Regions from separate parts of the Homo sapiens genome. Here region 1 is linked to region 2. The links come from fine-mapping of genetic effects on plasma protein levels. Region 2 holds a variant in brackets. A gene starts in the other region. All regions are shown on their forward strands.

The links. A credible set is the group of variants that fine-mapping cannot tell apart. PIP is the chance, under the fine-mapping model, that this variant and not a neighbour inherited with it causes the effect. Protein levels are from antibody-based Olink assays in UK Biobank. Linkage for the fine-mapping came from a reference panel and not from the study's own genotypes, which makes the PIPs less certain.
Region 1: it holds the start of CNTN3, and the variant in region 2 is the best candidate, but not a certain one, in a credible set for the plasma level of the CNTN3 protein (UK Biobank, PIP 0.87).

Annotation. Positions count from the first base shown.
Region 1 is chr3:74,609,639-74,617,967 of GRCh38, forward strand. CNTN3 (contactin 3) reads right to left here and starts at 5,021. Exons shown (of 23, transcript NM_020872.3): 1 at 4,753-5,021. LOC105377166 (a long non-coding RNA gene) reads left to right here and starts at 4,165. Exons shown (of 3, transcript XR_007096257.1): 1 at 4,165-4,253; 2 at 6,635-6,809.
Region 2 is chr7:73,611,530-73,619,858 of GRCh38, forward strand. It overlaps MLXIPL (MLX interacting protein like), which reads right to left. Exons shown (of 17, transcript NM_032951.3): 2 at 4,542-4,648. Among named protein-coding and RNA genes, the nearest start is that of MLXIPL, 8.8 kb to the right of the region's middle. The variant C/T (reference allele first, on the strand shown) is at 3,578.

The DNA.
Region 1 (8,329 bases), not on the chromosome of region 2:
ACAGAAAGAATACTGTCAAAGTCAGCTGCAGACTTCTGCTGAATACGGACCTTCTTGACAGGATCTTTGGTTACATATGGCAAGCTCAGCAAACCAATAAGCTTAGTTGTCATAGGTTTATCAAACTCCACTGTGGGCCAGATACTTTGACAGAAGCTGCTTTGCAATAATGCATAAAATAGATGTGGTAACTGCTTACAAGGTACTTACAGAATATAAACATACAATCAGGTAAGGAAATGTACAGTTCCAAGTTATACTAAGCATACCAAGGAAATGAACAGAAAGAGCCTATCAGAAGTGCCCTCATTCAGGGTAGGAAGGAAATCAGAGAGCCCTCTCTAAGCAAATGATATTTACACTGTGGCCTAAGGGATGAGTAGCAGTCAAAAACTCTATGTGGGCCAGACTCAGCGGCTCACACCTATAATCTCAGCACTTTGGGAGGTCGAGGTGGGCAGATCGTTTGAGTTCAGGAGTTCAAGAACAGCTTTGGCAACATGGTGAATTCCCATCTCTACAAAAAATCCAAAAATTAGCCAGGGCATGGCGGTGTGTGTCTATAGTCCCAGCTACTCAGGAGACTAAGGTGGGAGAATCACTTAGCCCAGGAGGTCGAGGTTCCAGTGAACCATGATCGCACCACTGCACTCCAGCCTGGGTGACAGAGTGAGACCCTGTCGAAAAAAACAAAAATGAAAAAAAAAACCCTGTGAGTTTGTGTGTGTGCACACGTGTGTGCGTATGTGTGTTTAGGCGTTAGGGCTGGACAGGGCTACTGGGCAAAAGAACAGAATGATCCCTAACATAGGAAAGAGCTCAACACATCTGCAGAAATGAAAAAGGGTCTAAGAAGCTCTTGTTCCTAAAAGCTTGCTAGGAATTGTCAAAGGGACAGTAGTGTTTAAATCCCACACAGCCTTGCAGGTAATATTTAATAGTTTGGATTTTATTCTGAGTTCAATGAAAAGCCATTTAAGCATTCTGAGTAGATGAGTACTAATTTAACTTACATTAAAAAAAAAAGAAGTCTTGGCTGCTATGCAGGATGATTTGGGGGAAGAAGTACGAAAGGAGCCAAGGAAGCCAGTGTAGTTATCCCAGGAGAGAAGATGGGGACTTGGAGAAGGAGGACGTGGGTGAACATGGAGGGAAGTGGGCGAATGTGAGAGATATTTCAGGGTTAGAACCAAAAGGACATATAAGGTCTGAGTTGTACTAGTTCCCCAAAATAAAAGCACTTGAAGTATTGTGATGGTGTCAAGATTTACCCTATTAAAACAGTATACTGACAGCCTCATTTATCAGTAATATAATCAAGCAGTTTTGAAATATGGATCTCATATCTTAACATCTGAAAGGTAATCAAAGTCAAGGGACTTAAAAAACAAATGGGACAAAATTGTTCTCTTGTTTTAGAACATAGGAAATTTACAAGCTGAGTTATAAAGGCACCTAAGAGAATGCTATGGAATCACTACAACATAGATAATCTATGTCTTCAAATGCCAATAGGTCTGCAACAAGAAATATGCAAACTCACTGAATTATTTTATCCTACTTAAGAAAATAGTCATTTTTCCTCATTCCTTGCAAGGCAGGTTCTTGCACAGTAAAGATTCTACAAATATTTACATTCCAAGTAGCAAAGCTGTTTGAAATGCTATAAAGTTCTGCCAGCACTTCTATTACAAACCCTTATTTCTTGTTTATAACATGTACATAAAAGGGGGAAAATAAAAATGTACTATGGATTGAAACTTGGCATACAAAGTTTCAACCAGGGAGTGCATTTCTCCTGCAGCAATTTTTCCAAAGAAATGTCCCACTGTGTTTAAGAGATGAGTGCAGGGGAGACTATAAGATAAAAACCATTTACAACACTCGATCCATTTCTGAAATGTTTATACAAATTGGATATGAGAATGAGATCTGTCACCCCTCAATTTCAAAGAAATGTTCTATCTTAAACTGTTCCGTGGCCCCATATTCTCTTGCCAACTATCTTTGCAACAATGATATTCTCCATTGCACTTTTTTCAAGCATAAGAAAGGAAACTGTCCACCAGCATTAAGTGATTAATTATATATGCATGTTAAAAGTATATGCATATGCATGTGTGCATATTAAAAACTACAAGTGAGCACCTTAAAGATGCTCACCTTCATAGAGACAAAGTACCTTGCTAAGATAAGAAGGCTTAAAGGCAGACTGGTGGTGACAACTAAATCAGAGACAGCAGGCAAACATGCACAGCATCAATAAATCCTCCTGCCATCTGAATATATTCCACTACATAAAATTAACATTAGTTTTACTGCTAACAACTTACTAACTGGTGATTGGAAACCAGTCAAAGCTTCTCTGTTTTGTAGTATTGCCACAGTATAGCGATATACAGATCTGACAGTTTGGAAGCAGCAATTATATCTATATACTATTTCAGCATGAACCATATTAAGAGTTAATGAGAACTTCAAGTTGGACACTTAAATTTTGCAGTAAAAACAAAGCTGGAAGATGTGTACTGAATGTGTGAGAAGGAGTTAGGAACTTGTAAAAGAGAAAGATGCATATTTTGCAAGCAGAGAAAAGAGGCTATTAGTTTGTAATAACTGGGCATATATGAAATGTGACAGTGATAAAATTGAACATAAATCAGCAAAGGAAAGGCTACAGCTTGTTGTCCACGGCTAATCTTCTCTCTACTTGAAAGTGCTCAGCACTTTGCTCCTATTAAATGCTTTGTTGCCATTTTAAGGTACACTTGGGCTATCTGGTTGTGTTGTGAAGAATATTTAAAAGTTAGAGTTCTCCTGGAGAAATGAACTTAACATCTTCATGTCTTCGGGCTGACATTAATGACATCCAGACAGTGAGGAGGACATGAGGCTGAATGTTATTGTCTGTGGCGGCCACAGCCTGAATCTATTACCCTGCATATCAATTAGACACTCGGTGTCTCGGTTATCCTACTTTTAGACAGAAGGGCCACTTGCATGCATTCAGCCTTACTATTCATCTTATAAAAGTGTACAGCAATTTGCTATATTTCCCTGGTGGATACTGATCATTTTGGGGGTCCTCAAACCACATGTTTACTCTCAACTAATTTCAAGCAAGTATTCAAAGACCAATAATTCCCAACCCCACTCTTTATTATTTGCAAGCCAACATCCTTCCATTTAGTGAGGCTGAACCCGATCAGATTTCTTTAATGAACATTCACAAGGACCTCTCCCATTGCAACCAGTGACATGCACGTATTAGGCATCTTACAAATGTTGCACAAATTGATATGAATATTAACCTGCAGTCAACTTTCTCCCTAGTCCCATGACCCACAAATGGTTAAAACCATGAACCAAGATGCCAGGTTACTGCAGCCAAAGTCAGGTTACTGTTAGTAAACACATCTAGCAAAGCAAAAGTAACACATTTGACTTGATATTGAGATATAAGCTCTTTCAAAGGCAATTACTCCTCCTTTCAATCTCTGAAGGGCTCTGACTCATTGTTCTGATTAATTCCTGTTTTTAATCTATTTACAGATCAGGATTCTTTTTCAGCTAGTGTGATATTCATCTCTGTGGGGGTAGACAGAAACCACAGCACGTACAGTCTTCCTACTTTTTTTTTTTTTTTTTTAGTTATTCTTGCTTAATCATTTTAAAATTATTTCTGGATTTACCTACTCACCATATGAGCTGGGGTTTCTGACCTCCCTCCTGCACATCACGCCCTCCTTGTCTGTTGCTTTTTCTAGCTCTGTTTCCCTGCATCTTGGGTTGAGGTTAGCAGACTGGCTACCCCTTTCCCAGAGCTCTGTTCCCCTTTCTTTGCCTCTGAAAGGAGGTTTGCTGTCCTTACCGTAGCGGACACCGTTTGTTATTAAATAATACCTCTGGACACATCTCCTTGTTGTAAATCAATAAGCAAATGCAATACAGGGAAAGACATACGGATTGGAGAGTTGTACGGAGCTTTGCACAAGCAGAGCCCAGAAGCTGTTCGTTCATTTCACGCGACCAGAAAAAATTCCTGATGGTGCTATGACCCCGGTGCCCGGTTGGCACTTCCTGGTTTTCTGTTTCTGCTATTCTGTTACCTGCTTGGTTAGCTTTGCAGGCTCCTCAGAGAACACAGAAACAGCTGAAACCAGGGTCCGAGCTCAGGAAACCTGGACTACAGCGCAGCAGGGTAAACCTGACAAATAAACGCGACGGGGAACTCCGTCCCAAGCTGCTGATCTGTGAGTAGAAAGAAAATGCAGCTTAGAAAACTTGATCGCTAATGAAAGAATCGGCCACCCTAGCTTTCTCAGACCTGGGAATCTGGGCCTGGGGGGTGGTTCCAGCAAAGAGGTATCACATTCCCACATTCTGCATCATGCACCTGGAATTGTTCCTCAGCATCCCTAGGAGTCACAACTTTTTTCCCCCAACTTTAACTGGTCAAATCCACTGCGCGAAGGGCAAGCCCAAGGGACCTACCACTCAATTTTCAGCGCTCCAGCTGGGGATGCAGCCTTCCCAACCCGAAACCAATCCTCGCCCCAGAAGGGGAAAAATAATCTCCCCAGAGCAAGTCCGATGAGAGAAGCATCTTTTATTCTCGACCCGTCAGGTGCATTTCCCTGCAAACAAACTTCGGGGCTGAGGAGCCATGAAGCCAGGGCGTAAAGTTTGCCCTGGCAGGTGGCTCATCCCTGTGGCCCGGCCGGCGCCAGGAGTCGGGCATCCCGGACTTACCTGGTCTCTGCAGCTCGCCAGACGCCCGCCCCGACGGCCCACTCGCCGCCGCCGCCGCCGCCGCCGCCGCCGCCACCGCCGCCGCCGCAGTTAGTCCGGGCCCGGGGGGCCGCCGTGCGCGCCCGCGTAAGCCGCCGCCGCCGCAGGCGCAGCACCCTCGTCCGCACGGTTCCCGGCCCAGTCCACGGCGCCAGCCCGCCCGCCGCTGCCACCGCCGCCGCCGCCAAGCGCCAGGCTGCTGTGGCTGCTGCCGGCGCCTAGCGAGCACTGCCCGTGCCTCCGCCACTCCGGCTCCGGCTCCGGCTCCGACGCGGACGCTGGAGGGAGGGGAGACCGGGCGGACTGGAGGGAGGGAGGGGCGGGGAGCGCGGCGGAGCAGCCAACTGGGTCCCGAGCCTCGCGTCTGCGGCGCCCCCAGCGCCTCTGCGCCGGCCGGACCCCGCGCGGCCCTGCGCTCGGCCGCGTGCACCCACGTGTGTCCGGCCTCCGCAGGGCCCTGGGCGGCGGCGCGGGCTGGGCGGCGGTCACCGTGTCACCTCCGGGTGGCCTCGTGCCACGCAGTTAGGGCCCTCGGAACACGGGGTTAAGGCAGGAATTCCACTTCTAGAAAAGCCTCCTGCAGCTGCGCTCCCACAAGTGCGCAAAGATTGCCAATTTTAATATTAAAGCGGATAATTATTAAGGGCTCACTAGGTAGCAGGTCGTGGACTGCGCTAAATCAATTAGTTCATGCAGTCCCCAGAGCAACCTGGATCTATTATTATTCCCGGATTTAGTGATGAGGAAATTGGTTTGCTTAAAGTTTCAATGAGTCAGTTGTGAGAATAATCGCAACTATATTCTGTCAAGGACCCTGTGAAGTAGATCTTACCACCTTTATTTGCCCAAGTATACACACAGTGGTGGGTTGGAGAACCCGGACTTGAATAAGCCTGTTGCAGTCCTGAGCCTTTGCGCTGAACCGCTGGTGACTTACTTCCAGTCAAACCCGTGCAAACACTGCAACTTTAGTTGTACGAAAAACAGTTGGGAACAACCTACCTGTCCTTCATTAGGAGAGTGGCTGATAAAATACAGTGGAGACATACAGCGGCAGAGAGAAAGGTGCATCTACTAGTATTGGCATAAATGACCTCCAAGAGGTATCCTTAGAGGCTGGGCGGAGGTGGGTCACTCCTGTAATCCCAGCACTTTGAGAAGCCAAGACAGGTGGATCTCTTGAGCCCAGGAGTTTGAGACCAGCCTGGGCAACATAGGGAGACTTTGTCTCTGCAAAAAACAAACAAACAAAAAGTTTAAATTAGGTGGGCGTCATGGCACGCACCTGTTGTCCCAACTACTTGAGAGGTTGAGGTGGGAGGAGCACTTGAGGGATCACTCGAGCTCAGGAGGTGGAAGCTGCAGTGAGCCATGATTGTGCCACAGCACTCCAGACCAAAAGACTGAGGGAGACCCTGTCTCTAAATAAATAAAAAAATAAATAAACGGTATTGTTAGGAGAACTTGGGACATGTACTGTTGATCGGCACAGGAAAGTTGGTACCTGTACCGTTTTTGTGCTTACAAGCACTTACACACACACACACACACACACACACACACACACACGCACGCACCCTTTTGTGTGTATGTATCCATATTTATGCATTCACAATTTCTGAAAGGATGTCTAAGGATACTGTTAACAATTGTTAGTCCTAGTGAGTGAGACTGAAATTGGAGCAGAGGAGACTTTATACTTTTCATTTTATAATTCTCTGACATTGTTTTTAAAATGTATCACGTTGTCCCTTCATATTAAATAATCTAGTCACATTTAATTAGACTTGACAGTTTATGGCCCTGTTTCCTCTCCTTGATCCTCTCCCTGTGATTCCTGCAGATGGAATGAAGCAACACCTCATCAAGAGAAGCAACCTGGGCAAACCAGGCCTGGTTTAACTGCACTTTCTCACGTTTGATCATTTTCTCAAGAGATACGTGCGTGGTCCTCTGCAATTCAGAATGAAATCTGAACTTCTGGAAAAACTCTCCTAGAGGGGGTTTGAGGACAAGAGGTAAGACCCAGGTCAGTCAGATGCAAGGTGCCGCTCCCTACAGCAAAGTCAGCATGTAGGCCCCCTGCATTTCCAATTGCCACAAAGAAGTTGCTTGGTACTTTGGAAGACTGAGGTGGGAGAATCCCTTGAGCCCTGGAGTTTGAGACCAGCCTGGGCAATACAGTGAGACCGCCTCTCAACAAAAAATTTAAAAATTAGCTGAGCATGATGGTGTGTGTCTGCAGTCCCAGCTGCTTGGGAGGCTGTGGCAGGAGGAGATCGCTTGAGCCTGGGAGGTCCAGGCTGCAGTGGGCCATGATTGAACCACTGCACTCCAGCCTGGGTGACAGAGCAAGACCCTATCTCAAAACAGAACAACAACAATAACAAAAAAAGAAATTGCATGAATGGCTTGACCAGGTGATTTTTCCCTAGTCCCCCTTACTCTATGAGCATACAACAGGATTCTTGAATACATTAGGGAACTTCTGGCCACATTTGCCCTCTCTCACTTTATCAGGAAACTGCTCATCCCTACAAGAGTAATAGCTGGATTACAAAAAATTCCGGGGTTATTTATGTTTTAAAAAGAGGTTGGGGGAGACAGGAATAGATAGAGCACGCTGCTATAAATAAAAATCATGTGCTTTTTCCCCATCAGAATTAAATTGCAGTAAATTTGGACTCCTTAAGCTTCCTCTACTTAGCCAAAGGAAAAAGAAATAGAACAGGTACAGAAAGGTTGTTTATGGTTGTTTCAGTTGTTACTGGTTACTGTAAATAATCTTTTTGCTTGCAATCTGGGAACATGTTGGCAAACCCCCTGCAGGTGACAAAATGTTTTATTGGGTAGAACTGGTGTGTTCTGGAAGGAGCCGAGAGAACTTTACATGCAAATTATGCCCATGCCTTGCCCCTAGCAGGTGCAATTACTGCCATGCCCACATCCATCACAGGCATGGCTCTTCTTTTAATATTTTCAACTTGATGTCTCCTAATACATTTTTCTTCTAATACATACATATATACCTTGTCTAATGGGAAGGGAAAGAGCATTTTCATCAAGGAGGGGGAGCTGGCCACAGGCAGCAAAATGACAGGGAGAAAGACAGGAAAGAAGCTCCTTTAAATTAGAAAGAAATCTAAACCCTAACCCCTTCCAGCCCTCTCCAAATAATTAGTCATTTCTAAACTCAGATTACATTGCCTGTGCTAGTAAAAGCTGATTAGTGCTGGAAAGGGATTTAATGGAATTTTGAGTCTTATGGTTGCAGTGGGGGGGTTGGTGGGGGCTGGCAGATCCTAAAAATTGTAGAAATAATGATGAACATTTAATATAAGCCACAGTCTCATAGACAGGTAAAAGGTGTATAAATATATGTATATAGAGAGACGTGAATCATTTTATACCCTCCCTTTGCCCAAAATGTAAAGCATAATGTGAGTCAACTGAAAGCCTGGTATTTACCAAAAGTTGATACACAAGGGCAGTTTTCAATACAATTTCCATCCAATTTCTGGGCCGGAAGCCCAGGAAA
Region 2 (8,329 bases):
AATCTGCTGGGCACGGTGGCTCACGCCTGTAATCTCAGCACTTTGGGAGGCTAAGGCCGGCGTATCACTTGAATCTAGGAATTCAAGACCAGCATGGGCAACATAGTGAGACCCCATCTCTACTAAAAATACAGAAATTAGCCAGGCGTGGTGGCGCATGCCTGTAATCCCAGCTACTTGGGAGGCTGAGGCATGAGAATTGCTTGAACCCGGGAGGCAGAGGTTGCAGTGAGCTGAGATTACACCACTGCACCCCAGCCTGGGTGACAGAGTGAGACTGTCTCAAAAAAAAAAAAATAAAATAAAATAAAGCATTCTCCAAAATGGACACTGATAGGATTGAAGGAGGGGTTTTGTCCTGGTTTCTGAGCCCAGATTGGACAGAAAACAAAGGGCTGGGTCCTTGGGTGCATAGACTCCCAGGGGGCTAGATAAGGAAGGAGGGTCTCAAAGTGTGTCTGCCCCTGGCTTTCCAGATGAGGAAATGAACACCAGCAAAGATGAAGTTTGTCCTGGTACGGTGTGGTGGCTCACGCCTGTAGCCCCAACATTTTGGGAGGCTGAACTGAGAGGATTGCTTGAGGCCAGGAGTTTGAGACCAGCCTGAGCAACCTAGTGAGACCCTGCCCCTACAAAAAATTAAAAATAAAAAATAGCTGGGTGTGGGGGCGCATGCCTGTAGTCCCAGCTACTAGGGAGGCCGAGGTGGGGGAATTGCTTGAGCCCAGGAATTGGAGGCCGCAGTGAGCTATGTTGGCTCCACTGCACTCCAGCCTGGGTGATGAAGTGAGACCCTGTCTCAAAAAATAGAATAAAATTAAGTTTGTTAGGCCAGGCGCGGTGGCTCACGCCTGTAATCCCAGCACTTTGGGAGGCCGAGGTGGGCGGATCACCTGAGGTCGGGAGTTCGAGACCAGCCTGACCAACATGGAGAAACCCTGTCTCTACCGAAAATACAAAAAATTAGCCGGGCGTGGTGGTGCGCACCTGTAGTCCCAGCTACTCAGGAGGGTGAGGCAGGAGAATCGCTTGAACCCCGGAGGAGGAGGCTGCAGTGAGTCGAGAGCACACCATTGCACTCCAGCCTGAGCAACAGAGTGAGACCCCCATCTCAAAAAAAAAAAAAAAAAGTTTGTCCAGGGCTCTCAGAAAGTCAGGGCCAAGTGAAGCCCCCCTCCCCAGCCCAGAGACCCCATCCTCTGGACTGTTTCTCATGGAAAGGCTGTAACCATGTGGCTTCCTGGGGGCTGGGGCAGGCTTTGTTTAACACTGATAAGTTCTTCCCTTCACTCAGCCGCGGAACCCTTTGCACCTATGCTGAGACAGATACTGGGACAGGACACATGGATGAATCAGGCAGGGTGCCCACAGCTTAGCGGGAGAGATAAGGAAAGTAAACAAACAACCCGAGACAATGCAAAGTGGAAAGTCCTTCTTGCCCCAGGAGCGGTGCAAAGTGCCAGGGAGCTCCCAGGACACCAAGACGATTTCAGAGTGTGGGAGTATGACTGTTGGATCAGGAAAGGAAGAATCTTAGAGGATAGGAGCCTGCAGGGGGTGGCAGAGCCCTTCCTGCTTGAGCCCTAAGGCCCGACATTAGTGGCGTCAAGCCAAGTAAGCCCTTCTCCTCCCCACTCCCGTGAAGCCCACCTTCAAACCTTTGGCGTTTAGGGAGGAGGAGGGGTCTTGACATTTGTTGTATGTGTGTCACGTGCTGCTATGACTATGACAGTGAGATACAGATGATCTCACTGAAAACTCAGTGAACCTCAGAAATAGGACCTATTGGCCGGGCGCGGTGGCTCATGCCTGTAATCCCAGCACTTTGGGAGGCCGAGGTGGGCAGATCACTTGTGGCCAGGAGTTCAAGACCAGCCTGGGCAACATGGTGAAACCCCGTCTCTACTAAAAATACAAAAATTAGCCAGGCATGGTGGCATGCGCCTGTAGTCCCAGTTACTTGGGAGGCTGAGGCACAATAATTGCTTGAACTGGGAGGTGAAGGTTGCAGTGAGCCGAGATCGTGCCATTGCACTTCAGCATGGGTGACAGAGCAAGACTGTTTCAAAAAAAAGAAAACCAAGAAAAAACAAATAGGACCTGTCATTCCCATTTTCACAAATAGCAAGCTTCGACTCCGGGAGGCTAGAGAATTTCCCAAGCCCACACAGTTAGGACATGCTAGGGCTGGACTGAAACCTCACTCTGTCTGATTCCGAACCTGGGGTCCTTCCAGCAACTTGTGCAATAGCTGGAGATCAGTGTGTCTGGGTGAGGACCCCAGGTGACATCATGCCTCAGCTGCCATCAGAAATTTCTTCTGCAGGCTGGGTGTGGTGGCTCACGCCTATAACCCCAGCTCTTTGGGAGGCTGAGGCGGGCAGATCATCTGAGGTCAGGAGTTCGAGACCAGCCTGGACAACATGGTGAAACCCTGTCTCCACTAAAAATACAAAATTTGGCGGGTGCCTGTAATCCCAGCTACTTGGTGCCCACAGCTTAGTGGGAGAGATAAGGGAAGTAAACAAACAACACGAGACAATACAAAGTGGAAAGTTCTTCTTGCCCCAGGAGAGGTGCAGGAGGCTGAGGCAGGAGAATCTCTTAAACCAGGGAGACGGAGGTTACAGTGAGCCAAGATCACGCCACTGCACTCCAGCATGGGCAACATGAGCGAAACTTCGTATTAAAAAACAAAACAAAACCAAACAAACCCCCCCCACCGCCATAATTTGGAGTTGGGGAACTGTGGACTTCCAGCCAGCCCCAGCTCTGCTTCTTTTACGCTCTGTGAACCTGAATATGTCACTTGCCTTCTGAGCCTCAGTTGCTCATCCATAACATGGCGGTAATAAAACCTATCTCCCAGGGTTGCTAGGAAGCCTTAAATAAGGTGATTCACGAAAGTGCCTGGCATGTAGATAAATGGAAACCAGAAAACACACCCTCTCCCTGCTTGGATGAAATCCAGCGGGGCGAGGACAGAGAATACTGCGTGTGGTCTCTCCTGGGCTTTGCATTCCCAGCTCAGTGCAGCCTTTGATCCTGCAGCAGAACCTGACCTGAATGAGGTCCCAACACAGGGCTGGCGGATCCAAGTCCTCTCTGCCTCTGCTGCCCTGCCATGGGGAGTGGGGTGTTCCCAAATGAATGAGAATGTGACCTCCTTAAGGATACATCATGTATTGGATACCAACTTAGTGGCAACACCCTGGAATACCTGTTATCTCCACACCAACCATGAAAGTTAGGACTATTGGCCTCGTTTTTTGTTTTGCCCTTTTTTTTTTTTTTTTTTTGAGACGGAGTCTCGCCCTGTCGCCCAGGCTGGAGTGCAGCGGCGCGATCTCAGCTCACTGCAAGCTCCGCCTCCCAGGTTCACGCCATTCTCCTGCCTCAGCCTGCCGAGTAGCTGGGACTACAGGCACCCGCCACCACGCCCAGCTAATTTTTTGTATTTTTAGTAGACACCGGGTTTCACTGCGTTAGGCAGGATGGTCTCGATCTCCTGACCTTGTGATCTGCCCGCCTTGGCCTTCCAAAGTGCTGGGATTACAGGTGTGAGCCACCGTGGCCT[C/T]GTTTTTATAGATAAGGAAACAAGTTCAGAGAGGCTAGGCAACTAGCCTGAAGTCACACAGCCAGCAAGGGGCAGAGACGGGGTGGAGGAACTAGCTCTGGGCAACTCTAAGTCCAGAGTTCCTTCCACGAGATGGCATGGCCTCTCTGGATCCCCTCTGCCCAATTGGCCATGGTGGGCACCTACTGGATATTCAGGAAGGACTTCAATGAAAGGCTGGTGGAGACCCATGCGGGATCCTCAGTTTCTCCATTTACAAAGTGATGCAGTTGGCCCCGCTAGTGTCTAATGGCCCTTTTTACCCTCGCATTCAAGGCACCCAACTATGCTAATGGGATGCAAAATGGGCTTTGAACTGTACCTCAAATCTCAGCCTACCCTAGTGCTACTGAGGGGTGACCTCTGCTGTGCCCAGCTTCACAGTGGAAACACCCTTTGGGACCTATTCCCCGAGACCCGCTGGAGGTCAGGAGCTATTCAGGAGTCCTGGTGCTGGGGGCCTGGTCTCCCCCTAAAAGGCTGTCAGGGTCAGGCGTGGTGGCTCACGCCTGTAATCCCAGCACTTTGGGAGGCCAAGGTGGGCAGATCACTTGAGGTCAGGAGTTCAAGACCAGCCTGGCCAACATGGTGAAACCGTCTCTACTAAAAATACAAAAATTAGCTGGGAGTGGTGGTGGGTGCCTGCAGTCCCAGCTACTTGGGAGGCTGAGGCAGGAGAATGGCTTGAACCTGGGAGGCGGAAGTTGCAGTGAGCCGAGATGGCACCACTGCACTCCAGCTTGGGCAACAGAGCAAGACTGTGTCTCAAAAAAAAAAAAAAAAAAAAAAGGTTGGCAGAACTCTGCTAGTGCTGGCCTTGAGGACCCCGGGGATTTTCCTGGGCAGCCACCATGTAGAACCCTCTGGCAGGAGGGTTGGAGGGGGCAGTCCCTCCCGGCTTGGGAGGCTGGTGGTAGCCACTCACACTGGATATACCAGGCCCTCCAGATGGCGTTGTTCAGGCGGATCTTGTCTCTGCAGAGCAGCTTGAGGCCTTTGAAATTCTTCCACTTGGGAGACACCAGCTTGCCACTGTCAAAGGGGAGAGGAGTAGGGTTAGGGAGATGCAGTGCTGCCACAGAGGCTGGTCCCCATATTCCCCATGCACTAGGCATCCATCTATGGTTGGCATTTGAGGGGCCCCTCCAAATCTGGCCCCCCAACCCAACCTGCCTGAAATTCCTATCCAGAGAGTCAGACCTTCAAAATCCCCTTCCAGACTCCCACCAGCGGCCCCTGTGTTCCCTGGGGAGACCTGTTTGTCAGTCTACTGCAGAACAAAAGCCACGCTGAAACCTGTGGATCAGCTCGGCCCTGGAAGCAACAATGTCCAGTGGCCTCACAGGTGTGTCTTGGAGGCTGGCTGGGGACAGTGCTCAGGCCCATTTCTCATTTAAGAGAATAAGAAATGACCTTCCTGGGCTGGGTGCAGTAGCTCACGCCTGTCATCCCAGAACTTTGCGGGGCCAAGGCGGGTGGATCGCCTGAGGTCAGGAGTTCGAGACCAGCCTAGTCCAACATACTGAAGCCCTGTCTCTACTAAAAATACAAAATTAGCTGGCTGTGGTGGCGCACACCTGTAATCCCAGCTACTCAGGAGGCTGAAGCAGGAGAATTGCTTGAGCCTGGGAGGCGGAGGTTGCAGTGAGCTGAGATCACACCGTTGTACTCCAGCCTGGGCAACAAGAGTGAAACTCCGTCTCAAAAAAAAAAAAAAAAAAAAAAGACCTTCCTGAGAGTCAGGGAGGAAAGGGGCAGGTCCGAGGTCACTCAGGCCTCCTTAGGCCCAGGAGAGGCAAAGGGGATGGCCATGGTTTGCCTGGTAGAGAGGGAGCCTCTGTGTTTTGTTTTGGTTTGGTTTGGTTTTTTTTGGTTTGCTTTTGGTTTTGAGACGGAGTCTCAGTCTGTCATCCAGGCTGGAGTGCAGTGGTGAGATCTCAGCTCACCACAACCTCCATCTCTTGGATTCAAACAATTCTCGTGCCTCGGCCTCCCGAGTAGCTGGGATTACAGTTGTGCGCCACCACGTTCAGCTAATTTTTTTGGTATTTTTAGTAAAGACGGGGTTTCACCATGTTGCCCAGGCTGGTCTCAAACTCCTGACCTCAAGTGATCTGCCCACCTTGGCCTCCCAAAGTGCTGGGATTACAGATGTGAGCCACCATGCCCAGCCGAGGGTGCCTCTTTATAGAGAGTGGCAGTCACTGCCTTCATGGTACAGTCCTTTTGGTGTCTGCCATGCCCAGAATCCCAGGGTGGCAACCTGGACTCAGCGAGAAGGTGTGCTCTTCTCAGGGCTGCACAGAAGACAATGAACCAACAGATCCCAAAGGAAGGCCGCTAGGATGAGCAAATGGTATTCATGGAGACAGAGCACCCTCACTCTAACCCTAGCTGTCCATCAAATCCACAGGATGGGCTGGGCGCGGTAGCTCACGGTTGTAATCCCAACACTTTGGGAGGCCAAGGCGGGAGGATCGCTTGAGCCAAGGAGTTTGAGACCAGCCTGGGCAACATAGCAAGACCCTGTCTCTACAAAATAATTTTAAAATTAGCCGGGTGTGGTGGCATGCACCTATAGTCCTAGCTACTAGGGAGGCGAGGTCAGAGGATTTCTTCAGCCCGGGAGTTTGAGGCTACAGTGAGCTATGATCACGCCACTGCACTCCAGCCTGGGCAACAGAGCAAGATCCTGTCTTGAAGGAAAAAAAAATCCACTGGATGGAAGAGCTTACACTGGTGAGGGTCCTGCTAGGCACAGGCCAAGTCTTCTGCCTCCAGGAAGCTGAGCCAGGAGGCCAAGACATTCAGGGTCTTAGACCCCCTGCTAGTCTCTCCCTCCCTCTCTCGTCTCCATCCACAAGCCAGGGTTGTGTACCAGTCCCCTCTAGCCCGCCTTTTGCATCCCTTACTCAGATCTCAGATGGGAAGGCTGAGGCCCCAAGTCTTAGCCATTTTTTCATTTTTTTGAGATGGAGCCTCATTCTGCCACCCAGGTTGGAGTGCAGTGGCATGATCTTGGCTCACTGCAACTTCCGTCTCCCAGGTTCAAATGATTCTCGTGCCTCAGCCCCCTGAGTAGCTGGGATTACAGGCATATGCCATGACACCCAGCTCACTTTTGTATTTTTAGTAGAGACGGGGCTTCATCATGTTGGCCAGGCTGGTCTCGAACTCCTGACCTCAAGTGATCCACCCACCTTGGCCTCCCAAAGTGCTGGGATGACAGGCGTGAGCCACCGCACCTGGCCCCCAAGGCTTAGTCTTTCAGAAAACCATACCTGCTTCCTCCAGGGGTCTTTCCTACATTCTGGGGGTGAAATGTGGGTGGGTGCCAGTCTGACTCCGCAGCCTCTCCCTACTTGAGTGCATTGGTCATTGGGCCCTCTCTCCTCCCTGGTCTCCAAGTTCCTGTGTTTGCTTTGGGGTGGGGGTGGGGGACTGCCCCCTCCCCACCAGGGACAACAGGCCTCATTACCCAAATAAGATACACAGCCCAGCTCTCTGGGCCACTGGCTGGGCCCCTCCCTCTGAGAATTAGATAAACACCATCTGTTTGGTAGGGAGACATGGAGGTGGGGGTGGGGGGAGACTCTGCTACCTCCTGGGCCAGCTTCTTCTGTGGCACCTGGTGGGGGACTCCTGAGTCTGTTGTCCCTGTCTGTATCCCAGCAACCTCCCAGCCCATTCTGATCACCCCGTGTCGCACCCTTGACCTGCCTGCCTTCTCTCCCGCTTCCATGCTAAGGTTATGACGTTCATGGCCCAGGCAGGGTTAGAGCAGATGTGACAGTGACAATATCCAAGCCCAGGAGGAAGAAAAGGATTTGGGGCTGTGAGAGAAGAGACTCAGCCTGGAGGAAGAGCGTAACGCTAGGGTTCAAGAACTTTTTATGACTGGCTGGGGATGGCTCACACCTGTAATCCCAGCACTTTGGAAGGCCGAGGCAGGAGGACTGTAGGAGGCCAGGAGTTTGAGATCAGCATGGGCAACATAGTGCAACCCTGTTTCTACAGTTAAAAAGTTAGCTGGGGCCAGGCACAGTGGCTCATGCCTGTAATCCCAGCACTTTGGGAGGCCGAGGTGGGTGGATCACCTGAGGTCAGGAGTTCGAGATCAGCCTGGCTAACAACGTGAAACCCCGTCTCTACTAAAAATACAAAAATTAGCCGGACGTGGTGGCAGGCGTCTGTAGTCCCAGCTACTTGGGAGGCTAAGCCAGGAGAATGGCGTTAACCCGGGAGGCGGAGTTTGCAGTGAGCCGAGATTGTGCCACTGCACTCCAGCCTGGGCGACAGAGAGCGACTCCATCTCAAAAAAAAAAAAAAAAAAGTTAGCTGGGCATGGTGGTGCAAACCTCTAGTCTCAGCTACTCAGGAGGCTGCAGTGGGAAGATCGCTTGAGCCCAGGAGTTCAAGGCTGAAGTGAGCTGTGATCACACCACTGCACTCCAGCCTGGGCAACAGAGTGGGAACCCGACTCATAAAAAACAAGTAAATTCTGGTTGGGCGCAGTGGCTCAAGCCTGTAATCCCAGCACTTTGGGAGGCCGAGATGGGTGGATCACAAGGTCAGGAGATCGAGACCATCCTGGCTAACGCAGTGAAACCCGGTCTCTACTAAAAATACAAAAAATTAGCTGGGCGTGGTGGCAGGTGCCTGTGGTCCCAGCTACTCGGGAGGCTGAGGCAGGAGAATGGTGTGAACCCGGGA